7 linked regions of the Homo sapiens genome follow. The protein of the gene in region 7 purifies or fractionates together with the protein of the main gene of each other region. This does not show direct contact. Each region holds a gene or a part of one and is shown on either strand. Other genes may lie near its edges.

The links.
Region 1: the proteins of VSTM1 (region 7) and RAB35 purify together in Homo sapiens (affinity purification with mass spectrometry; one large-scale study listed by BioGRID and IntAct). This does not show direct contact.
Region 2: the proteins of VSTM1 (region 7) and ZDHHC18 purify together in Homo sapiens (affinity purification with mass spectrometry; one large-scale study listed by BioGRID and IntAct). This does not show direct contact.
Region 3: the proteins of VSTM1 (region 7) and MROH1 purify together in Homo sapiens (affinity purification with mass spectrometry; one large-scale study listed by BioGRID and IntAct). This does not show direct contact.
Region 4: the proteins of VSTM1 (region 7) and STEAP2 purify together in Homo sapiens (affinity purification with mass spectrometry; one large-scale study listed by BioGRID and IntAct). This does not show direct contact.
Region 5: the proteins of VSTM1 (region 7) and GOLGA5 purify together in Homo sapiens (affinity purification with mass spectrometry; one large-scale study listed by BioGRID and IntAct). This does not show direct contact.
Region 6: the proteins of VSTM1 (region 7) and FASTKD1 purify together in Homo sapiens (affinity purification with mass spectrometry; one large-scale study listed by BioGRID and IntAct). This does not show direct contact.

Annotation. Positions count from the first base shown.
Region 1 is NC_000012.12:120,103,254-120,106,753, forward strand, and holds part of RAB35 (ras-related protein Rab-35), read right to left. Parts: intron 697-3,500; coding exon 573-696; intron 1-572. UniProt on the Homo sapiens protein: The small GTPases Rab are key regulators of intracellular membrane trafficking, from the formation of transport vesicles to their fusion with membranes.
Region 2 is NC_000001.11:26,833,188-26,836,687, reverse strand, and holds part of ZDHHC18 (palmitoyltransferase ZDHHC18), read right to left. Parts: intron 1-3,500. UniProt on the Homo sapiens protein: Palmitoyltransferase that catalyzes the addition of palmitate onto various protein substrates, such as CGAS, HRAS and LCK. Acts as a negative regulator of the cGAS-STING pathway be mediating palmitoylation and inactivation of CGAS.
Region 3 is NC_000008.11:144,235,016-144,238,515, forward strand, and holds part of MROH1 (maestro heat-like repeat-containing protein family member 1), read left to right. Parts: intron 1-3,500. UniProt on the Homo sapiens protein: Lysosome fission factor. Recruited to lysosomes by RAB7 (RAB7A or RAB7B) at scission sites and homooligomerizes to mediate the constriction and scission of lysosomal tubules. May sever membranes by inserting amphipathic helices into one bilayer leaflet.
Region 4 is NC_000007.14:90,228,740-90,232,239, reverse strand, and holds part of STEAP2 (metalloreductase STEAP2), read right to left. Parts: intron 2,369-3,500; coding exon 2,204-2,368; intron 1-2,203. UniProt on the Homo sapiens protein: Integral membrane protein that functions as a NADPH-dependent ferric-chelate reductase, using NADPH from one side of the membrane to reduce a Fe(3+) chelate that is bound on the other side of the membrane.
Region 5 is NC_000014.9:92,807,805-92,811,304, forward strand, and holds part of GOLGA5 (golgin subfamily A member 5), read left to right. Parts: intron 1-1,495; coding exon 1,496-1,715; intron 1,716-2,449; coding exon 2,450-2,573; intron 2,574-3,500. UniProt on the Homo sapiens protein: Involved in maintaining Golgi structure. Stimulates the formation of Golgi stacks and ribbons. Involved in intra-Golgi retrograde transport.
Region 6 is NC_000002.12:169,560,366-169,563,865, forward strand, and holds part of FASTKD1 (FAST kinase domain-containing protein 1, mitochondrial), read right to left. Parts: intron 2,986-3,500; coding exon 2,860-2,985; intron 421-2,859; coding exon 22-420; intron 16-21; exon of another isoform or gene 1-15. UniProt on the Homo sapiens protein: Involved in the down-regulation of mitochondrial MT-ND3 mRNA levels which leads to decreased respiratory complex I abundance and activity.
Region 7 is NC_000019.10:54,050,398-54,053,897, forward strand, and holds part of VSTM1 (V-set and transmembrane domain-containing protein 1 isoform 1 precursor), read right to left. Parts: intron 2,578-3,500; coding exon of another isoform or gene 2,502-2,577; intron 1,052-2,501; coding exon 1,013-1,051; intron 1-1,012.

The sequences.
Region 1 (3,500 bases), on a different chromosome or scaffold from region 7:
GGCCTGCAGCTCAGCCACAAAGGTGGGCAACCGGTGGGCGGCCGGATTTCCCAGGAACAGCTTTAAGGGTAGGGAAGGGCCTGCTGACATGCACCGTGTTCGTCTCTAGACAGCGTCACTTCCAAGGCATCAGTGCAGGTGACGGGAGCCTGCACAGGCCAACTCCAGCTGCCATAACTGACACCTACCAAGAGGAATTGTCAGCGACTAAGTCCTGGGTGGGCAAGGCACTTCGCAACCCCCTAGCGAGGCAAATGCTATTCTGCTCTCTCTGTAAGGTGACGGCACAGTGGGCCGGAGGGTCGGCTGACTCTCCAAGGAGATAGAACATGGCCACTGTCCGGCCAGACTCCAGCCAGGGTGCTCAGCGACTCCCCCACAGCACCCCCCTCACATCTTCAGGACCAGGAAGGGTGCAGCCAAACGCCACCTACTACAGCCAACAACAGGCTCACTTCCCGACAGCCTCAGGGACCCACCAGTGACATTTCCACCATGACCAGGCACCGGTCGCTCAACTGTGTCCACAGGTCAGTGGCGCGGGTTGGGTGGGAGTGGGCGTGTGGACTCACGTGGAGGTGATGGTGCGGAAGCGCTCCTGCCCCGCTGTGTCCCAGATCTGCAGCTTCACCTTCTCCCCGTTGATCTCCACGGTCCGGATCTTGAAATCCACTCCGATCGTGGTGATGTAGCTGCCTGCACACACAGGGCAGTTAACGAGGCCCAGCGCGGTATCTTCCCAGGCCCTGAGCCCCACGCTGCACACAACACACCCCCAGGCTCCCCCACCCTCCCGACTCATTACATGTGCCTGGTACATTCTAGGTCCCAGGGACACAGCCCTGAACATCCTTGTTCACAAGGCCCCTCCACACACAAGTGAAGGAGGGAGACAGGATGCAAGCAAACAAACAAAGAGGACAATTTCCGAGAGTGAAAAGTGACACATAGGAAATAACACGGGATGGGACTGGCGGGAGTGGGACAGGCTCCTTTAGAGTGGCTAGATGGGGACACACCAGCTATGTCTGAGAATGGTAGACCTACGGGCACTCTGGGTTTTTCTTTTCTATTCAAGTCAAAAAAAATTTAGGGCCCTCAAAATTCACTTCCAAACACACAAATAGGTCATGAGCTGCAGTCTGAAAGCCACTGCTCCAGGCAGGGGAGACAGTAGCAAAAACAGCCGTGAGTGGGGGCGGTCACATGAGGTCAAGCCTGCCGCCCAAGGCAGGCAGAAAGTGGCGAGGCCAGATCTTGGACCTGTGTGCCACTTCCAAGAACGTGGACTTTCTCTCGTGTGTGCTGGGGAGGCACCAAAGGGTTTTAATCAGTGGCATGAGCTGCTGCATTTTAAATAGCTCTCTTGCAGCATCTGTGGGAAAAATGGATTTTTTTTGGTGGGGGGGGGACAGCGTCTCATTCTGTCGCCCAGGCTGGAGTGAAGTGGGATTGCACCCTTGACCTTCCCCCAGGGTCTGATAATCCTCCCACCTCAGCCTCCTGAGTAGCTGGGACTACAGGCATGCGCCACCACGCCCGGCTAATTTTTGTGTTTTTAGTACAGACGGGGTTTCACCATGTTGCCCAGGCTGGTCTCAAACTCCTGACCTCAAGTGATCCGCCTGCCTCAGCCTCCCAAAGTGCTGGGATTACAGGCACAAGCCACCGTGCCCGGCCTGAAAGATGGATTTGAGGAGAATTTCTAGCCGGTGTAATTGCCCAGTCCAGCTTTCCAAAGCCTGACACTAGGAAGAGCACAGCTTCTCACTCCATTTGGGGCTTATGCTATAACAGTGCAGGAGACACCACACACACACACAATTATGTGAAATGTGGCAAGGGCGTAGGAAAGGTCAAATTCCAAGGTGGGGTGGGGAACAAGGCAGGCTTCAGGGAGGACGTCACATCTGGGCCTAGCTTGAAAGAACAGGTAAGACTTCAAAGGTTGAGATTAGGTAGGGGAACGACATCCCACTCAAAAGCAAATAGCTGAGGATGATACGCAACCAGAACACATTCAGAAAAGCGGCCAGCACCCGGGGTCTTCCAGCCAGGGGAACGCCAAGGAGTGCAGCCCACTGCCTAGCACAGTTAGGCTCCCCAGAAACAGCTGGTGGCTAACGAACCAAGCAAGCCAAAGAACAAAAGAATGACCAGGGGGTAGGAGGAAGCCAGAAAGGCGAACTGAAAACAGACTACGAGCGCAGTGGTTCTCAGCCGGGATGACTGTCCCTCCAAAGGACACTCAGCAATGTCTGGAGGCATTTTTGGTTGTCACAGCAGGGGGAGGGAAGTGTTGCTGGCATTTAGTGGGTGGAGGCCAGGGATGCTGCTCAACATCCTTCGACACGCAGGATAGCCCCACAACAAAAATCACAGGGCCCAGACCCGGCGCGCTGGCTCACGCCTGTAATCCCAGCACTCTGGGAGGCCGAGGTGGGCAGATCACGAGGTCAGGAGATCAAGACCATCCTGGCTCACATGGTAAAACCCCGTCTCTACTAAAAATACAAAAAATTAGCCAGGCGTGGTGGCGGGCACCTGTGGTCCCAGCTACTTGGGAGGCAGGAGAATGGCGTGAACCCGGGAGGCGGAGCTTGCAGTGAGCCAAGATCACACCACCGCACTCCAGCCTGGGCGACAGAGCGAGACTCCGTCTCAAAAAAAAAAAAAAAAAAAAAAAATCACAGGGCCCAAAGGGTCAACAGTGTCCAAGTGAAGAAATCTTACTGTAAACTCTGTGCAGGTGAGAGGGGCCACTGAGGTTTTTAAACAGAGAAAAGACCCTACCAGACACACACATGAGCGGTTCAGGGTGGGTAGGGGTTGCCGTAATGCTTCCAGGTAGAACCAACAGTAAACTGAGATGCTGGTCGTAGAAATGGAAAGGTGGGAAGAGATTGCAACAACAAGCCCTCCAAGCACTGAACACAGATTGGGATGGGGAGGGAGGAGGCCATTAAGGAGGAAGAGGAACATTTTTTAGCATAATTAGAGGCTGTTAATCAGCTATCATTCTTAAACAGAAGGTTAACAGCCAGTCGCAACAAATAGCTGGTATTTATTGAGCAATTACTTAGTCCCAGGCACTGCAACCTGCACTATCTCAGGTCATCCTATAACAACCCCATGGGGAAAGGACCATTATGATTTCTACTTTACACATGAACTGAGGCTTCTATTTTACAAATGAACTGGCTAAGGTCACACAGAGCAGCCATCTCTTTCTAACACCACACCACTAGTGAGATTGCAGGGACAGTGTCAAGGAAACAAAGGGGGCAAAACCCACTTCTCCACCAAGAGACATCAGCTATGGAATCACTTTCTTTTTCTTTTTTTTTTTTTTTTTTTGAGACGGAGTCTCACTCTGTCGCCAGGCTGGAGTGCTGTGACAAGATCTCGGCTCACTGCAACCAACTCCCTGGTTCAAGCGATTCTCCTGCCTCAGCCTCCTGAGTAGCCGGGATTACAGGCACATGCCGCCACACCCAACT
Region 2 (3,500 bases), on a different chromosome or scaffold from region 7:
CTGAGGCAGGAGAATGGCATGAACCTGGGAGGCAGAGGTTGCAGTGAGCTGAGATTGTGCCACTGCACTCCAGCCTGGGCAACGGAGCAAGACTCCGTCTCAAAAAAAAAAAAAAGAAAAAAAGAAAAAAAAAGAAATGAAGGTACAAGGCGGGATGCAGAAGGAAAAATCACAAAGGCTGGACTCATATCACTGATATGCTGAGGGCACCAGAGAGTCACCCAAATTCTGTGGGGTTTGTGGGGGGACAGGGCAGGGGTGGGGAGAACAAATTTGGGATCTTGGAGAGATAACTACAATTGAAGGGAAAGGCCCAGTCAGGGCCTGTTCTGCAGAGCCCTGAGCCAGTTCAGGTGGAACACGAGGCAGGTCTGTCCAGGGGAAGTGGGCAGAGACGTCCTGGAGACAAAGGAGATGGGGTCTGGGAGCTGGTGTATGGCAGTGGAGAGAGACGCAGCCTCTGTGTCCGTCATGTGAACTGTAACAGGGTCTAAGTGAGCATCTGTCACTTGGATTTGGATGTCTCTATCACCTCCCATCAGACCAGGAGCTTCTGGGAGCAATATTGCTCTTCCCAACTGCCTAGAGCCTGCAGGGTGAGCCAGCTGCACAGCCCACCAGCCGGCAAGACAGGATCTCAGATGAGGGTGACCGAGTGCCCTGATTTTCCTGGGATTGAGTGGTTTCCTAAGACAGGAGACTTTCCAGGTGGTCCTGGGTAAACTGGGAGGAGCTGGTCACTCTACCTCAGACTGTCCCCACAGGGCAGGAGCCCTGGGCCAGACCTGTTGGGCTGGAGTTGCTGGGCTGGGGTGCCAAAGGGAAAAGCCCACACTGTCTACATGAGCCTAGGACCAGGTAATCAGTTCATGCTCACATGAACAGCACCACCTGCCTCAGAGACAGCTCCCAACCTTCTGGAAAAGGTTCAGTGATCTTAGTCCTGATCATTTTCGGGGAAATATGTTTTTGGTTTTTTTTGTTTTTTGAGACGGAGTCTTGCTCTGTCACCAGGCTGGAGTGCAATGGCGCAACCTTGGCTCACTGCAACCTCCGACTCCCTGGTTCAAGCGATTATTCTGCCTCAGCCTCCTGAGTAGCTGGGATTACAGGCACACGCCACCATGCCCAGCTAATTTTTGTATTTTTACTAGAGACAGGGTTTCACCATGTTGGCCAGGATGGTCTCAATCTCCTGACCTTGTGATCCGCCCGCCTCGGCCTCCCAAAGTGCTGGGATTACAGGCGTGAGCCACTGTGCCAGCCCTGGGAAATATGTTTTACTTTAATTAGTTAGAAGTCTCCTGGTCACACCCAAAAATTTGGCTTCTATTCAAGTTTGAGAATTCAAAGGCCTCCAAAATGCCACTTTTGCACTTTGCACCTGTTCGCCAAGAAAAGTCTTAGGGACATTCAGCGCCCTACAAGATTGATTCCACCCCATCCTTCCAACTGGAATATCTCTAATATCCCTAACTATCTGAAGTGCTCCTCATATTCTAGCCAACGTGGCCTGCTCAGTGGCCCGTTCCCATCCCTCCTCCTTCCCTCTGCCACTCTCTCTTCCCTCAGCTTTGTCTGCCTGAAGGGCTGCCTCCGCACAGCTCCTGTGCTTGAATTCCACCCAAACTTAAAGACTTAGCTCAAGCATCACTTCTCCAGGAAGCTTCTCCAGTCCCCCAGGCAGAAGATGCTCCTGACTCCTCTGACCCTCTTCTAAAGCCTGATCTCACTGGCAGTGGCTGGTCAGGGCTCCCACCTGGGGCCAACTTGTCTGGAACCCATGAGAGTAAGCTCCTATCAGATTCATTGTTGGCCCCCACCTGCCTTCACTCTGCTGTCAGGGGTCAGCATATAGAATTAACACACAAATGAACAAACCCATGATGCCCAACTGGGAGATGTCCTGACTGTTTCCTCACCTGTCACCCTGACAGAGCAAGGAGGGCCTTCACAGAAGCTCACCTATTCTTCAGTCATTCATTTACTCATTTAGCCAACGTCACTGAGCCTTCTACATGGCGACAAGGTGAACAAGATGCTGGAATTCCATGCCCTCACAGGCCAGCAGAAAGGATGATTTTGTAATGACCACCGTTGCAGCACAGGTTCAGAGAAGGAAGGAGAAGGTGCTCTGGGAATGTGCAATGGAAGGCCTGGCCCAACTGGGGTCAAGAAGGCTTCCCAGAGCACAGGAAACAAGTGGAGAAGAGGATGAAGGAGATGTGTCCCTGCTGCCATCTCAGAAGAGAAAGCAAGGGGTTTGGGAGTGAAAGGCACACACTCTGTCTCTGCTTCTTTATCCTGGCCCTGTGATCACCTGCCTCCGTTTCTCCATCAGTACAATTGGTTAACAGGGTCGCCCTCACTGGGCTGTTGTGAAGATTTGTGGGGATAATAGATGGAAAGCACTCAGCACACGGCCAAGCTCTTTCCAAGAAGGGGATTACTGCTGTCACTGTGATCCACGCAGCTCACAGGAGGCCGAGGATTCCAGGCAGCCAGACCTCTGGGTCCGGCTGAGCTGGACAATAATCCTGCCTCATGATTAGCCCTGACCAGAAGGGGAGGAAGAACGGGGCACAGCTGGGCCTCCCCAGCTGCCAGGTGGGCCAGCCCAGGTCAGACCGTGGGATCCTGAAGGAGTGGCCAGGGACCCAGAGTTTGAAGGGGTAGGACGCTGGATGTAGGTGAGAGGAGGTGGCCCTCGCAGGCGTGGCTGAGGATGGGGCTGGGCAGAGGAATGAGACAAAGAGCAGACAGAGCCCAGAGAACATCCTCTCCAGCTGCTCGCCCTCCCTCCCTCCCTGCTGCACAGAGTATTAGTGAAATGATTTCTAGCGATGGATGCAGCAGGGCTCTGACATTTACAGGCCACTAGATGTCTTCAGGGCCAGCTGGGTGTTTAAAAGCCTGTGTGAACACCATGCTGTTAGGGGAAGGAGCTAACCACGGACCGGAAACCCCCGAGGTGTGCAAGTAGCCACGTCACTTCTCAGCAGGAAGAGCTGGGGTGCAGCAAGCTGAGATTAGGGACCTGGCCCAGTACCCCGCCACCCCGGAACCCACACAGCAGTCTGAAAGGAATCAAGGGCCACCTGGGCTGCCTGGGAGCACAGGGTCTTTCCAGCCACTGCCGTTCCTCACACACGCCCAGGCTGTTTGCCACTCTGGGCTTTGGCCTTACTTTTCCCAGATCCCCGTATTTCTACCACACTCATCTCCAGTGCCGCCTCCTCCTAGAGGTCTCCCCTGACCACCTGACCTAAACTAGCCCACTCCCCAACACCTACTGGGCTCTTCCCTAGATAACCCCACCGTCAAGCCCTCATCTGTTCAGGCCGGTGCTTCTTTGCTCAGATGTCACCTCCTTCACAAGATGTTCCCTGGCCACCCTATGTAAAATCACACACCCTCCCTGTAGCCTTCATCCTCCTTCCCTCCTTTCTTCTCTGTCTGATATCCTAGATATTTAATTATTTGTTATTTATTGTCTCTTT
Region 3 (3,500 bases), on a different chromosome or scaffold from region 7:
CCGCGTAGCTGGGATTACAGGCGTGCGCCACCATGCCCAGCTGATTTGTTTTTGTATTTTAGTAGAGACAGGGTTTCACCATGTTGGCCAGGCTGGTCTCAAACTCCTGAGCTCAGGCAGTCTGCCCATCTTGGCCTCCCAAAGTGCAAGGATTACAGGCATAAGCCACTGTGCCTGGCCTACAATTATTCTTTCATATCGATCTTGTATACTGCAACCTTGTTGAACTTGCTTATTTTAATAGTTTTTATTGGATTTCTTAGGATTTCTATAAGGATTGTGTCATCTACAACTATAGTTTTACTTCTTTTTTTTCAGTCTGGATGCGTTTTATTTAATTTCCTTGCTTAGCTGTCCCAGCTAGAACGTCCAATACTGTTGAATAAAATCGGTGCGAGCAGACAGCCTTGTCTTGTTCCTTCTCTTTGTGTAGAAGCATTTAGGCCGGTACCATCAGGTATGATTCCTGCTGTGGGGCTTCATCAGGTCACAGGTACCACCTTCTAGTCCTGCTTTGCTGAACGGTTTTGTTATGAAGAAGTACTAGATTTGATGTGCTGTTTACTGTGTCTAAGATGAGCTTGTCGTTTTTGTTCTTTATTTTAGTGATATGGTGCATTTCATTAAGTGATTTTCAGATGTTAAACCTGCATTCCTGGGATAAATCCCACTTGGTCATGGTGTATAATCGTTTTTATACATTGTTGTGTTCAGTTTGCTGGTATTTTGTTGAGGATTTTCATGTCTATGTAAGAGATCATGGTATATGCTTTTCTTATGCCTTTGTATGATATTTGTAATCTGTACACACACATATAGGTACATACATGCACAATTTTTTTCCAACTCATTTGGGAGAAAATTGAGACATCGTGTCCCTTTATCACTGACTACTAAATATCTTGTTTATTTCCTAAGAATAAGGACATTGTTCTACACAACCATAGTCCAGATGTTGGAATCAGGAAATTCTACATGGAGACCATAATGTCACCTGATCCATGCACTTCCTCGGTCATCCCAGTTCTGTCCCTTTAGCTGCTTTCTGGTATAGGGTACAGCCCAGACACATACATTATGTGGCTGCTGTGCCCTGTTAGCCTCCTGCCCTTGTGTTTGTTGACCTGGATACTTTCAAAGAATTGAGACCAGTTATTTTGTTGAATAGCTCAGGTATGGTGGTGTTTTCTCATGATTTGATCCAGGTGATGCAGTTTTGGGAGGAATCTCATGGAATCGTGCATGTCCCCACCAGTGTATCATATCGGGGGTCCTAGTGTTGGTTTGTTTCAGTGTTGATCTTGTTAGTTCTGATCACTTGTCTATGCTCGGTTTCTGCACTGGAAAGTTGCTGTTTCTGCCTTGTAATAAATAAGTAGTTTGTAGGGAGATCTTTGGGATTAAGTAAACATCTTCTTGTGATTAAACATTTAGTCAGCATCAGGCCGGGTGCGGTGGCTCACGCCTGTAATCCCAGCACTTTGGGAGGCCGAGGTGGGTGGATCACTTGAAGTCGGGAGTTCAAGACCAGCCTGGCCAACATGGTGAAACCCCATCTCTACTAAAAATACAAAAAATTTAGCCAGGTATGGTGGTGGGCGCCTGTAATCTCAGCTACTCGGGAGGCTGAGGGAGGAGAATTGCTTGAACCCGGGAGGCAGAGGTTGCAGTGAGCTGAGATCACCCCACTGCACTCCAGCCTGGGTGACAGAGCGAGACTCCATCTCAAAAAATAAAATAAAATAAAACAAAATAAAATAAGTAAATAAACACTTAGTCAACATCAATTGTTTTTAATTATCTATGGATGGTTTTCTAACTCCAGTGATATTGCTGTACTTAGTTCTTTGGCCTCTGTTGTGACAGAGCCTCTCCTATTCCTTTTTTTTTTTTTTTTTTTTTTTTTTTGAGATGGAGTCTCGCTCTGTCGCCCAGGCTGGAGTGCAGTGGGGTAATCTCGACTCACTGCAAGCTCCGCCTGCCAGGTTCACGCCGTTCTTCTGCCTCAGCCTCCCGAGTAGCTGGGACTACAGGCGCCCGCCACCACGCCCGGCTAATTTTTTGTATTTTTAGTAGAGACGGGGTTTCACCGTGTTGGCCAGGATGGTCTCGATCTCCTGACCTTGTGATCCGCTCAACTCGGCCTCCGAAAGTGCTGGGATTATAGGCATGAGCCACCACGCCTGGCCAGAGCCTCTCCTATTCTTATGTGCATGCATCTCTCTCCGCATGGACTCGTGGTTTGCTGTTTGACGCAGGGGTCCATGCGCAGTCCCTGTTGCTGGCCTTGGTGTTCAAACTGTCCCACACTTGGTCGGTAGCACCCTTCGAGCGCGCAGGCCCCTGTCCTGAGGCCCTGTTGCCCTTTCTGGCGCAGGACGGTGTCCCAGCTCACCTGGGGCTGCCCGTGCCTCTGCTCTGCGGACCCTTCCATGAGCTATTGGTCTCTTGTTTCTGGGAAGCTCGCTCCTTTATTTCTTGAGTATTTCTTGCCCCTGTTTTTGTGTCTCACTGACTTTGGTGTATCTGTTATCCGAAGGCTAGCACTGCTGTCTTCACATCTTTTAGCTTTTTCTTCTTCCATTCTTTTTAAATTTCTTCTTCCTTGAAGTCTTCGGCAGCCTGTTCTTCCAAGTTAGTAATTTCTTCCTCAGTGAATCGTTACATTATTCGTTTCCTGAATTGAATTCTTTATTTCACGGTTATACTTTTTCACACCCTGTCGCTGGGATTTTCCTTGTTCTTGGCTCCTCATTTCCCCGTTGTGGTTCCTTGTTTCCCTGTTGCGGTACTTTTGGTGCATTTTTTCGCACAGGCATTGTCCCCAGTCTGTGTCCTAACGTTCGTGTTTCTGGTGGAGTATGTCCTCACTGTTCGTTATCAGGTATTTTGCAGTTTCTATTTGGTTTCTTTATTAACGCAAATGATTCTTTTATGATCTTTAAAATCTCCAGGTCGATAGGTTTTCATGGGTGTTGTGGATTTATTGTTATATTGAATCTGGCCAGGTTGATTTCTGCTTTTAAGTGTTGGTTGCAATATTATTTTTGGCCTAATGGTCAGGATTTCAAAGTGTATGTTTGGTATGAAGTTCTATCTATATTTTTAGTGCCTACTGTAAAAATTGAAGTTCAAGGCCTAAATATCACTGTTTTTTTTTTTTTTTCTGTGTGACTTTCAGCTTCTGAAAGAGAGGGATTAGAAGTCCCTGCAGTGTTGCCATTTTTCCAAATATGCCGCTTTGTGGTTGAGCTTTTACTTTTTGGTATTTCAAAACCTGAATGGAACGTGTGGGAAACAGAAGTCGTCTGCTTACAGGGACGCCTTCTGGGGAGCTGAGCGTACAGAGAGGACAGCAGACATCCAGCCCACCGTGGCTGCCGAGGCTGGGTGGCGTCCTGGTGGGAACCAGGTTTTCTGACATGGGTAACGTTCCCACAGAGGCTATCCTGTTCCTCCCCTGCAGGCATTGCAACCTCACGAGCAGTGATTTTTTATGG
Region 4 (3,500 bases), on a different chromosome or scaffold from region 7:
ATAAAACTATTTTGTCTTAAATTATCAAGTTAACCTTTGTCCTCTACTGAATTAAATAATATTAATATTTTTATATATGCATATATATGTATTATTTATATGCACACCTTATGTTACACAAATAAGGCCCTACTGCATACAGTTTAATATTCTTACTACTTCATTTATTTTATCAAGAACATTTTCCTCATGTCATTAAATATGAAAATGACATTAATACTGTATAATATTCTATTGAATGGATGTGCATAATTTATTAAACCATTCCTTTTTGTTGATAATTCACTGTTTCCAACTTTCCTCAACTATAAATGTCATGTTAGGCCATTTTCCATATTTTGATTTATTTTCTTAGGACTGGTTTCTAATAGTAGGATTATTGGTCAAAACATCTAGCTTTTCCTTAAGGGTACTGATACATACTGCTAGACTCTTCTTTATAAAAATTATTCACATTCCCACCAGTTGTGTATTAAAGAAATGTGTATGTATGTGTGTGTGTATACACATACACATAAATATAGTCATGTGCCACATAAGGGCATTTTGGTCAACTATGGACTGCATATACAACGGTGGTCCCATAAGATTATATGCCTTATTTTTACTGTACCTTTTCTCTGTTTAGATATGTTTAGATACACAAATATTTACCATTGTGTTACAAGTGCCTGTAATATTCAGTACAGTAACATGCTGTACAGGTTTGTAGCCTGGGAGCAATAGGTCATGGTTTGTATAAATATGCTCTATGATGTTCACATGATAAAACTGCCTAACGACTCATTGCTCAGAACGTTCCCTACTGTTAGGTAACACATCACTGTTAATACATAAACAGACATATGATAAAATTAAATAAACTAATTTAAAATTATTAAAATTAATTAAATTAAATTAAAATTAAATGAGCATCCTCATGGGCACACACACATATATACACACTGGTTAATAGGCAAATATGAAAAATCCTGCAGTATTAATATAAACAACAATTAAAATATAGAGTTTATTAAGAATACTTCAGTTAGGCACTTTACAGTTTAAATTCTAAAAGCTCATCATTCTTTAGTTCGCTAAATTATTATGTTTAAGAGTGCTTACTTTGAAGAATAGTCTGTTATATAAAAGTAATATTACATCAGTATAGTGATGTAATGTCTAACTTTACTGGAAAATATCAACCCTCCAGCAGGCAAAATATTTGCAATTACTCATCTAAATTTATAATGATAATTTGCATCTGTCTAGAACCTTCTATTTCTTTTCGGGTATGATTAAACTAGCTGTTGGGAAAGTACTCTCCCTTTTCTTCAAAAAGGAAAAATAAATTCAGATAAGCATTTTGGCCCTGCTTTGAATGAGATTTTTACAGGACCTTAAAAAAAAAAACAAGCAAATAAGCAATGAATTGAAACAAAACTTAAGTGTACCACCAAAGGACATGAATCTGTCTACTATGCTGTAAACCATTTGGATACAACCAGTACAGATTTTGTGAAAATATAGGAAGGGTCTATGTTTCAGTTATATATTTTTAAAATATGCAACCTTATTATTTAGATATTATTGGAGAAGGTGAATGTTTAACTTATTAAAGAATACAATGGTGGTTTGAAATCCCTTTACAGACATCCATACGTATTAGTATACTACTGATATACTAACAAAATTCTTAAGGCTGGTTGCATGTTATAATCCATTACTCTAGTTACCTAGTTTGCCACTGCTTGTGTTTGTATGTGTGTGTATATATACACACATTTCTTTAAAATATTCAGATTGACATCCCCACTTGAGTTCAAATTAATAAGATTTTTCTGGACAAATCAAGATGACTCAAAACATAAAATAATTTTTCATTCACTTGGCTAATAATAAATTGACTTTCAACATTAAATTTGATCTAAGCTCATCCTTCCCAACTTTCATTTTTTTTTTCTCTTTTAAGATAACTTTTTTGTTCTTAACATAGTATACTGGAAGGCAGTGCTGTCAAAGTCTTCCAGTACAATCATATACTGACTGGTCTTTCACTTATTTAACCAGAGCAATCCTAAGCTGGCTTCCAGCATAATGTATCTAGATGCATAAATACAGCCTCAAAGGCACCCTTTTAATAAGGAACATATTTAAAATGCAGTTGTTCTTAACAAGGAAATCCTATCCTGCACAATCCTTCACCAAACAAAACCCCACATACCTGAATAAAACTGAATTCTCTCCAGTTTAAAGCATTGCTCACTGAAGGGATAGAAGTGACTGCCAGGAGGGAAAGTAAGCCAAGGCTCATTATGCCAAAGGAGATATACATTTCAATTCTCCAAACTTCTTCCTCATTCCAAGAGTTTTCAATATTTGCATGAACCTAACAAGAAAGCGAATGTGAATTTCCTTTATTTAGTAGAACATTAACTGATTCAGCACAGAGTTCACTCTTGGCATAAGAAGAACCTGGTCATATATGGACGTATTTAAGTTGTACTAATTTAGTCTAACAAACCATTACAGAGAACCTGTTACTGGATGATACTGCTCCAGGTGTAAGGGAAAAGAGAATTAAACAAAAGGAGGACAAAACTTTCTCTTTCCTTGTATACGTGCTAGAATAGAGGGGCAAAGCTTTGCCATCATCATTACAGGGACTCTGGAATCCAACACCATAAAATACCTAGTAGTTGGTTCTAGGGTGACACAAAAGAAGTTACTGACAGTTAAACTTAGTTTTGAAGTACTATTACAAGCTGGTTTAAACTTGGTTGAATATCTGGGATATAGTCTGGCCTTAGTTCAACTTGGATCCGGTCAGGGAATTTCTAAACTATGTCAGTATCTTCTTCCATCACATGAATAATATATCTCTGTTTTATCTTTCTTCTCATCTTCTCTTCCTAGAAAGCTGTGATTTCCCTAGCTATAAAGGCCAATGGAGCTCATTTATCCACTTGAACTGCCTCATTTAATATGATCCCCAACTATCCAATTGTGTCATTTATATGCAGTATTTTTTCCAAATGTCTTTTCCTTACATTGATAATGTGTATATAATCAAGTCAGACGGTGAACTCTGAATTTGTGGTATTTTGTGTAGGGACTACCTTTAGAAGTTCTATTTACATTCAGAATATAATTAGAGTATAAATCAAGTATTGGACTCCTTCAGCTGAAATTTTTGATTTAAATAAGTATCTATTAATGGAAAACAGATTCTAACTTAACAACAGTTTAACTTTGTCCAATTCCAGTTAACAAAACATACTTGAAATTTAACAACGAAAAGCTGCTTCTTAGCTATTAGTTCCCTAAGGCAATCATACCATCATCTTGAAAGAGGCCACAGAGTTCTTACCATCTTCTTATTTGATATCTATACAATACAGAAAAACAGCACTACCCAGTGTACTCGGAGACTACAACCTGGATCTACCTGCTCTCCCAGTTCATTCATTCATCCACAAATGGGCTGTTTGAGTGTCCACAATGTCTAGGCTCAAATCTAG
Region 5 (3,500 bases), on a different chromosome or scaffold from region 7:
GTGTGGCTGAGAAGAAAACGAGTGACAAAATTGCTGCCTTGGTTCCTGGGGCTAATTAGAAAGGAGTGAGGGGATGGTGGGAAAAGTTTTGCCAAGCCATGGATAGAGCCTAGAAGAGAGGAAAGGGAAGATAGTTGAAGACTCACTAAGCTAGGCGTGGTGGCTCACGCCTGTAATCCCAACACTTTGGGAGGCCGAGGCGGGCGGATCACAAGGTCAGGAGTTCAAGACCAGTCTGGCCAACATGGTGAAACCCGTCTCTACTAAAAATACAAAAAAATTAGCTGGGCATGGTGGCGCGTGCCTGTTATTCCAGCTACTCAGGAGGCTGAGGGAGGAGAATTGCCTGAACCCAGACCCAGGACCCAGGAGGTGGAGGTTGCAGTGAGCCGAGATCGTGCCACTGCATTCCAGCCTGAGCTACAGAGCGAGACTCGTCTCAACAACAACAACAACAACAACAAAAACAAAGTACTCACTAGTCAGGCTGACTTTAGAAAAAGCTTTACTTTACCCACACTAATTTAGACATAGAAATAGAGCTGTTTGGCCAGGCACAGTGAGTCACGCCTGTAATCCCAGCGCTTTGGAAGGCTGAGATGGGAAAATTGCTGAAGCCAGGAGTTCAATAACAGCATGGGCAACAGAGTGAGACCCCTGGGCTACAAAAATCAATTTTTTTTTGTTTTAAATTAGCTGAATATGGTGGTGTACACCTGTAGGCTGAGCTACTTTGGAGACTGAGGTGGGAGGATTGCTTGAGCCCAGGAGTTGGAGGTTGCAGTGAGTCATGGGCCATGATCATGCCACTGCACTCCAGCCGGGGCAACAGAGTGAGGCTCTGTCTCATGTTTTTGGGTTTTTTTTTTTTTCTTTAAGAAAGGTGTGTCTCACTGGAAAAAAAAAAAAAGCTTTGAGACCCTATAAAGTTTGATTCAGTATTTTTAAAATGTTGTGGTGGCTAACTGCAATTACATATGGTATGTGAGGGTATGGAAATGCCATTGTATTCTGAAATAGAGCACTACTTTGCTCTTTTTGCATTGATTTCCTAGGTCAAAAGAATAACATCTTTTTGCAACAGTAATTGAAAGCAATAGATTCTTTTCTGTGTTTAGGTTTTGTTTTGTTCTTACTAGGATGTACCTTTGATTTGGATTTGCATTCCTTTCCCTGTCACTAGCAGAACTTTACAAAATATACTCTGCTATCTATTAATACTAGTTTCGGCTCCCAGATGCTTTATCATATAGAAACAGCATTGTAGAAGAGCAGCTAGCTTCACGCCCCTTTCTAATCAATTAACTATAATCTAGCTGTGAATATTGCCCTTGAAAAGTGGATGACCCTTTGGGGCAAAGAAAATTGAAGACGTGTAAGTTCCCAATTTTGTCAATAAGGAAAGTACTAAAGGCACTCAAAGTAGAAACTGTACGTGCTCTGAGAAAAATGTGTTTGGTTTTGCTTGTATAGAGAAATTTAAATTTTTTAATAGAATTAAACAAAGCAAGAGCAAGAGTTGAAAAGTGGAATGCTGACCATTCAAAGAGTGATCGAATGACTCGAGGACTCCGAGCCCAAGTAGATGACCTGACTGAAGCTGTGGCTGCAAAGGATTCCCAGCTGGCTGTACTGAAAGTGAGACTCCAGGAAGCTGACCAGCTACTGAGTACTCGCACAGAAGCATTAGAAGCCTTACAGAGTGAAAAATCACGGTAGGTGATTCTATGAATAATGAAAAAAATGAGCAAGTAATGGTAAACATTGTAGTGTATCCACTTATGAAACTTAGCTTTCTTGGAAATTTACAAGAGGGAATATTTCTTTTGGTAGTGTTAGAAATGTGTATGATTAAAATGGATTCATTGGCTGGGCGTGGTGGCTCAAGCCTGTAATCCTAGCACTTTGGGAAGCCGAGGCAGGTGGATCACCTGAGGTTGGGAGTTCGAGACCAGCCTGACCAACATGGAGAAACCCCGTCTCTACTAAAAATACAGAAAAAAAATTAGCCGGGGGTGGTGGCACATGCCTGTAATCCCAGCTACTCAGGAGGCGAGGCAGCAGAATCACTTGAACCCAGGAGGTGGAGGTTGCAGTGAGCTGAGATTGTGCCATTGCACTCCAGCCTGGGCAAAAAGAGCGAAACTCCATCTCAACAACAACAACATAAAATGGATTCATTGTTTGAACCTTGAGATGCATTGTTAGCAAATTCTGAATTTAAAAGCATTTGTTGTGTCATTAATCTTTCATTATACGGTATGTACTTAATATTTGGATGCCTAAAAATGTAGATTATGTTCCATTAGAAAGGAAAGATTTATCTAAGAATATTTCAGTCAAATTATCTTTTTTGTGCTTGACTAAAGCTGACGCTCTAAAAATTATTCTGCCTTATCACTTGTACACTGTAGACATGAGTTATTTCACATGATGCATTTTCCTTTAGAATAATGCAGGATCAAAGTGAAGGTAACAGCCTGCAGAATCAAGCTCTGCAGACTTTTCAGGAGAGACTGCATGAAGCGGATGCCACTCTGAAGAGAGAGCAGGAGAGCTATAAACAGATGCAGGTTAGAATGAGAGACAGCAGATTCCTATTGTTACTTGGACACGGAAAAAATGACTTTATGCTGTTTCATAGCACATTAACTGTCTAATATAATTCTGCAATGCATTTCAGAAAATTCTGTTTCTGTGACAAAAATCAGATATTTGAAAATTTAGCTTGATCCTTGCTAAATGTATTTAATTTTATGTGTTGAGAGACAATTAAAATAGTTAATGTGCATTAGAGATATACATCTTTTACTTAATTTTTGCAACAATCATTGTCATTATTTGATTAAATGCTAATGGTTGGGGGATCGTATTTGTTTTTTATTAATTTAAGTTTTTCTGATTCCAGATTAATCTGGCTCATTTATTTCAGGAGAAAATTGTATGTAATATGTAAAGAGTTTTACTCTTAGATGAATATTTGCATTTAGTTCAGTCCCAGCCCTGTCTACACGTGGGAATCACTTGTGTGATACCTTGTGCTGTCTGAGCTCCATATGCAGTCACATTCCATTGTATGAGGTAGGGACTAGGTATTGACACTTTGGTTTTAGAAGGTTCACAGGTGTATCTAATGAGCAGTCAGGGTTGCAAACCACTGGTCTGGGCTAGCTTTTCAACAGGTGAAAGTAATTCAGTCCTGAAAGTAAATATCAGGTAGTGTGTGTCTCTTAATTTTAACACAATATATCCAAAGTATTAATTATTTCAATATGTAGTCAATATTAAAAGTTATTAATGAGATATTTTACATTATTTTTTGAATACTGGTTCTTTAAAATATGGTGTAATTTACACCTATTTATTTACTTATTAAATTGGAAACAGTTGATCAGCTAGTATCAGACCAGACCTAGTATCCAAGTGACCAGGTTCACCTGGGAAATTTCTTAAAAAACAGATTCCCAGACCCATCTTGAAAATTCCAGTTTAGTAAGCTT
Region 6 (3,500 bases), on a different chromosome or scaffold from region 7:
TGCATTTTAAACTGAACTTACTGTTTCTTTTCTTCAGGTCCTGCAATGGGTCCCAATGCTACAAACAATTTTACAAAGCTAGCAGGATGATTACACAGAGGAATCATTTCAGTTAGCTTCTTTTTAGCCATTATAATAAATTCAAAACTATTAAATTGTAGAAATTTGTATACACTAAGTATTTTACTGATGGAATCCAAATCAAGGTGGTCCACATTACTTAAAAATACGTTATTACATCTTTCTAATAGTGGTTGATAACGATATCTAACATTTCGAAGAAACTTTGCTATGCTTTTTGCAACGTTGACCTCAGAAGAATCTATGGTGTCAAAAAGAAGTTCTGTTTTGTTCACCAGTTGTTGTTGAAAATGTCGTGATATTAAAGAAGATATGTTGACCATCAAGACAGACAAGGAACTGAAAAAGAAAAAAGATGCAAAGATTTTTACATCAATTAAGAATGATCAATTCTTTTTTTTTTTTTTTTTTTTTTTTGTAGAAACAGAGTCTTGCTATGTTGCCAGGGCTGGTCTCAAACTCCTGGGCTTAAGCAATCCTCCCACCTCAGCCTCCCAAAGTGCTGGGATTACAGGCATGAGCCACTGCACCCAGCCACATAAGTGTATTTTTTTTAAAAAAAAGGCAAGGGGCTGGGCATGGTGGCTCATGCCTGTAATCCCAGAACTTTGGGAGGCCGAGGTGGGCAGATCACTTGTGGTCAGGAGTTTGAGACCAGCCTGGCAACATGGTGAAACCCCATCTCCACTAAAAATATAAAAATTAGCTGGATGTGGTGGCGAGCACCTGTAATCCCAGCTACTCAGGAGGCTGAGGCAGGAAAATCGCTTGAACCCAGGAGGCAGAGGTTGCATCATTGCACTCCAGTCAGGGAAACAGAGGGAGACTCCATCTCAAAAGAAAAAAAAAAAGGCAGGGAAGTAGGGTGGAGTGGGGCAAGAAGAGCAGGAAACTACTATAATTTAATTTTACCAAAGTGCTAATCACTTTGTAAATATGAGAGAAAAAGCTGTATCTGAAACGCCAAAGACAATCATAGTACTGGATTATGAAGGTTAGCATTGACAGTAAGTAATCTTATGTTAAAAACAAAACAAACCCTCAAACCACTGGTATGAAAACCAGAGAAACTCCTTAAATGTTAGTTTCAAATTAATAGTTCCTTGACATTCAGCAAATGTAACTATTAACTCTCCTTTATGAAACTGAAAAGAAAGTATTCCCAGATGGAAAGAATAAAAAAGACATAATTGTATGTAAAATTTGTGAATTTGTTTATAAATTAATTATAAATTAATCCATTATAAATTATTAATCTATTATAAATTAATTATTAATCTATTATAAATTAATTATTCATTATAAATTATTTATTAATTTATTGTAAATTATTTATTAATTTATTGTAAATTATTTATTAATTTATTGTAAATTATTTATTAATTTATTGTAAATTATTTATTAATTTATTGTAAAATAATTATTTATTAATTTATTGTAAATTATTTATTATAAATTATTTATTTATTGTAAATCAATTATTTGTTAATTTATTATAAATTAATTATTAATTTATTGTAAATTAATTATTCATTAATTTATTGTAAATTAATTATTCATTAATTTATTGTAAATTAATTATTTATTAATTTATTGTAAATTAATTATTTATTAATTTATTGTAAAATAATTATTTATTAATTTATTGTAAAATAATTATTTATTAATTTATTGTAAATTAATTATTTATTAATTTATTGTAAATTAATTATTTATTAATTTATTTTTTGGTTTTTTTGGATTTTGTTGTTGTTGTTTCAAGTTTTGTTACTGTTTTTTTTTCGTTTTTTGTTATTGTTGTTTTGAGACAGAGTCTTGCTCTGTTGCCCAGGCTGGAGTGCAGTGGCACAATCTCAGGTCACTGCAACCTCCACCTCCCAGGTTCAAGTAATTCCTGTGCCTCAGCCTCCCGAGTAGCTGGGATTACAGGCGCCCGCCACCATGCCCAGCTAATTTTGTATTTTTTGTAGAGATGGGATTTTTGCCATGTTGGCCAGGCTGGTCTCGAACTCCTGACATCAAGTGATCCACCCACTTCGGCCTCCCAAAGTGCTGGGATTACAGGTGTGATCCACCATGCCTGGCCAATGAATTCATACTTAATTTAAATACTTCTTGGGTTTACTTCATGATATAATAATAATACCTACTATCCATTACTGAGAAACTTCTATGTTCTAGATACTTATTCAGAGGCCATTTTCAGTGGGTTTCTGACTGCCTTTGTTCAGAACTATCTTTTCAAGGATGTTTGCATAGCAAACAGCCTAGGAGAATAGAGATAATGTCTCCTGTTGGAGCAGAGTAGGCATGCTTTATTATAAAAGATTCAGGTTTCCTAAGCTCAGAGCTCCTCTCCTGGATCACAACCCATTATGGGAACGAGAGCTCAGGGAATCAACACAAGAAAATTCTGGTACTCTGCTACTGCTATTGCTATAAAAAACAAAGTCCTCTCTCTGACCTCGGAGTCTCAGGCCTTCCTACGGCACACGTAGGAAAATGTGGCAGGCAAACTTAGCTTGCAAATAGGTAAAAACTCAGATCCTCCACAGACCTCAACAATATTGTATTACACTTTATGTACCTTATGTCTAATCCCCACAGCAATATTGCAAAGTAGCTATTACTATCCCTCTTTTGCAGATGAGGATAACGAACTTCCAAGAGCTTAAGTAACCTTAAGTCACATAAACTAAGAGTAGCAAATCTGACTGCATCCACATCCAAAGCCCAGGATCTTTCCACCACAACACAAGATTCCCTAAATAAATTTACCTTAAGTCCTGTGTGGTTTCCAAGTTCCTATGAACAATATCAGCTATTTTTCCCATTAATGGACTAAAATACAAATGCTGATCTGCTAGGCAAGAGGAAAATTCTGAGAGCAGTTTAATATCAAACCTATTAAAGGAAATATACAAAGGAGAACATTAGTATTTACTTTCACTTAAAACACATAATATATAGTTATAAAATTAAAAGCAATCAAAATAGTAAATTACATAAAATTTTTTTTCTAAAATGTTATTATTATAAAAGTAACATGGCAACAGTTAAAAAGTCAGATACTGTAGAAAGGTTTTGAAAGGGGGAAAATCACTAAAAATTATTTGAATGATTTACTTAATTTTTTTAGATGACAGAACAATTTTGACTCAAGGTTGCATATTAACAAATATAATGGCTGCTACTACAACAGTGCTATGAATTTTTTTAATAGGAGAAATAATCCAATTTCTTCAACAAGAAAATGGCAAGACAAAAGAGAGGAAAAAGGAACTGTTATAGATTTTATGACTTTGAATTCACTAAAAAACAAGCATAAGAAAATTCACAGCAACACATATGTAATAGCAAAACCCTGCAAAAAACCCGAATGTCCATCAAGAGTACAATGGATAAACTGCACATACTCA
Region 7 (3,500 bases):
TTGAGAATTTTAGAGTTATAACAAACTCTTGATTATATATATTCCTGAAGTACCTACTCTGCGTAGGTCCTGGTCCTACTCCCCAAATGGGTCACTGAAAAATTCACCCCCATTATTCCCCAAATCCCACCCTAGTTTTTCATCATGTCATATGGCAAACAACGCACTCTGTGCTGTTTTACACACCAGCTTCTTCAGAACCCGGAAGCACTTTAGAGGTTATCTCCCCTCATCCTCCACCCCCCAAAACACAGCAGTTTCCCCAATAACATTGAGAAAATGGGCTTTAAAGTTCTTCTAGGCCGGGTGCGGTGGCTCATGCCTGTAATCCCAACACTTTGAGAGGCCGAGGCGGGGGAATTGCTTGAGGTCAGGAGTTTGATACCAGCCTGGCCAACATGGTGAAACCCCATCTCTACTAAAAACAAAAAACAAAAAACAAAACTGAGCTGGATATGGTGGTGGGTGCCTGTAATCCCAGCTATTCGGGAGGCCGAGGCAGGAGAATTGCTTGAACCCAGAACCCAGGAAGTGGAGGTTGCAGTGAGCTGAGATTGTGCCACTTCACGCCACCCTGGGGGACAGAACAAGACTCTTTCTCAAAAAAATAAATAGGCCGTGTGCGGTGGCTCACGCCTGTAATCCCAGCACTTTGGGAGGCTGAGGCGGGCAGATCACAAGGTCAGGAGTTCGAGACCAGCCTGGCCAACATGGTGAAACCCCGTCTCTACTAAAAATACAAAAATTAGCTGGGTGTGGTGGTGCGTGCCTGTAGTCCCAGCTATTCGGGAGGCTGAGGCAGGAAAATTGCTTGAATCCGGGAGGCGAAGGTTGCAGTGAGCTGAGATTGCGCCACTGTACTCCAGCCTTGGTGACAAAGCGAGACTCTATCTCAAAAAACAAACAAACAAACAAACAAACAAATAAATAAAGTTCTCCTTGTGCACTTTAAGCAAAGGTGATCATGAAGCAGATCTCATTGGGAAAAACATCTCCTTTCTAATTATCTTACCTGTTTTCATTGAGGGAGCTTCAAGTTCATCGTGTTTATCTAGAAAATAGGAGGGAAGAAAAGGAATTACACTAATCATACAGGAACCTTGGGGACAGGAGTCCTCACGTCCTACTTATAGACATCCTGTTCTTCTTTGGGAAGCAGAAAAGAGAATGGCTTCTCCATTCCCTAGATGCTCCCTGGGTCCTCAGAGCATGGACAGAGCCTCAGATTACTCTTCTTAATAGTCCTGGAGTTTGATAGTATTTTTAATAACAAAAATATTTATGAATGACCCTGCTAACGCCCCCTCCAGTTTGATTCCTTGCCAGTCTTCTCTATCTTGACAAAGAACACCATTCACCCAAATTCTTTCTTTCTTTTATTTTTTTTGAGTCTTGCACTGTTACCCAAGCTGGAGTGCAGTGGCATGATCTCAGCTCACTGCAACCTCCGCCTCCCGGGTTCAAGAGATTCTCCTGCCTCAGCCTTCCAAGTAGCTGGGACTACAGGCGCCCGCCACCACACCCTGCTAATTTTTGTATTTTTAGTAGAGACAGGGTTTCACCATGTTGGCCAGGCTGGTCTCAAACTCCTGGCCTCAAGTGATCAACCTGCCTTGGCCACTCAGAATACTGGGATTCCAGGCATGAGCCACTGCACCTGGCCTATATTTCTATCTCCACAGTGGCACCATTTAGTCTAAGTTAAAATATCACCTACTTGGCCGGGCGCAGTGGCTCACGCCTGTAATCCCAGCACTTTGGGAGGCCGAGGCGGGCAGATCACAAGGTCAGGAGATCGAGACCATCCTGGCTAACATGGTGAAACCCCGTCTCTACTAAAAATACAAAAAGTTAGCCGAGCGTGGTGGCGGGCCCCTGTAGTCCCAGCTACTCGGGAGGCTGAGGCAGGAGAATGGCGTGAACCCGGGAGGCGGAGCTTGCAGTGAGCCGAGATCGCGCCACTGCACTCCAGCCTGAGGGACAGAGCCAGACTCCGTCTCAAAAAAAAAATAAAAATAAAAATAAAAATGAAATGAAATATCACCTACTCACCAGTCCCTGGCAACCACCAGTTGCTTCTGTGAGTTTGGCTTTTTTAGACTACACATATGAGTGAGATCCTGCAGAATTTGTCTTTCTGAGTCTGGCTTATTTTGTTTAGCATGATATATGCGGAGATGTTGATGAAAGGGTATAAGTTTCCAGTTCTAAGATGAAGAAGTTCAGGTGCTCAGCATGGTGGCAATGGATGTGCTAATTAATTTGACTGTGATAATCATTACACAATGTACAGGTGGATCAAATCATCAGATTGTATACCTTGAATATATACAATCTTCATTTGTCAATTTGATATTTTTAAATTTAAAAAGTCGTATTGCCTGAAACGCACCAACTCTTACTACATCTAGTCCCTTATTTTCCAAAAGCAGCCAGAGGCCGGGCATGATGGCCTGTGCCTGTAATCTCAGATGCTTGGGAGGCTGAGGTGGGAGGATTACCTGGGCCTGGGAGGTCAAGGCTGCAGTGAGCTGTGATTGCACCACTGCACTCCAGCCTGGGCAACCGAGTGGGACCCTGTCTCAAAAAAAAAAAAAAAAAAAAAAGCAGCCAGTGACCCTTCCAGCATATAAATAAAATCATGCCATCCTCCAGCTCAACTTCATCAGTGGGTTCCTGTTCTTTCAAAGCAGACTCTAGGACCAGTTCAAACACCCACAAGATCCTAGATGCTCTAGGCCCTGCCTTATGTCCTCCTTTCTGTGTCTCAATCATTCCAGGAACACTCACACTTCTGAGACTTTGCTTTTGCTGCTCTCTCTCCCTGGAGGGCTGTTCTCCAGATATCGGTGTGGTTGGGTCATTCTCATCCTTCATGCTTGTGGCAGATAGACCCTAAGGGGGCACTCAGGAGACTCAGGAGCCCTGCTTCCTGGTGTTCATGCCTTTGTCTAATCCCCTCACCTTGAGTGTGGAGATCTGTGACTTTCTTCTCACCAATAGCTATGGCAAAGGTGATGGGATGTTATGCTCTTGATTATGTTACATTACATAAAACTCTGTTTGCTAGGGCATTTGCTCTCTCTTTCTTCTCTCTCTCTCAATCTCTCTTCTTGCAAGTGCTGCAGAATCATTCTAGCATGAATCCTACAGCTATAAAGAACCAGATATTGCTATCAACCACAGGAGTGGAGAAATGGACCCTTCCCCAGTCAAGCCTCCAGATGAGCCAGATGAGAACACAGCCCTTGTTGACACCTTGATTGCATCCTTATGAGACCCAAAGCAGAGGACTCAGCTAAGCTGTGCCTGGACTCCTGACCCACATCAACTGTGAGATAATAAATAGGTGTTTCAGGCTGCTAAATTAGTGGTAATTTGTTATGCAGCTGTAGATCACTAATACAATGCCTCTCACAGTTATTCTCCATCTATAATGTGTTTTTTAATTACTCTGATAGCTTGCTCTTATTTCTTTCTTTCTTCCAAAGAAGAATGTG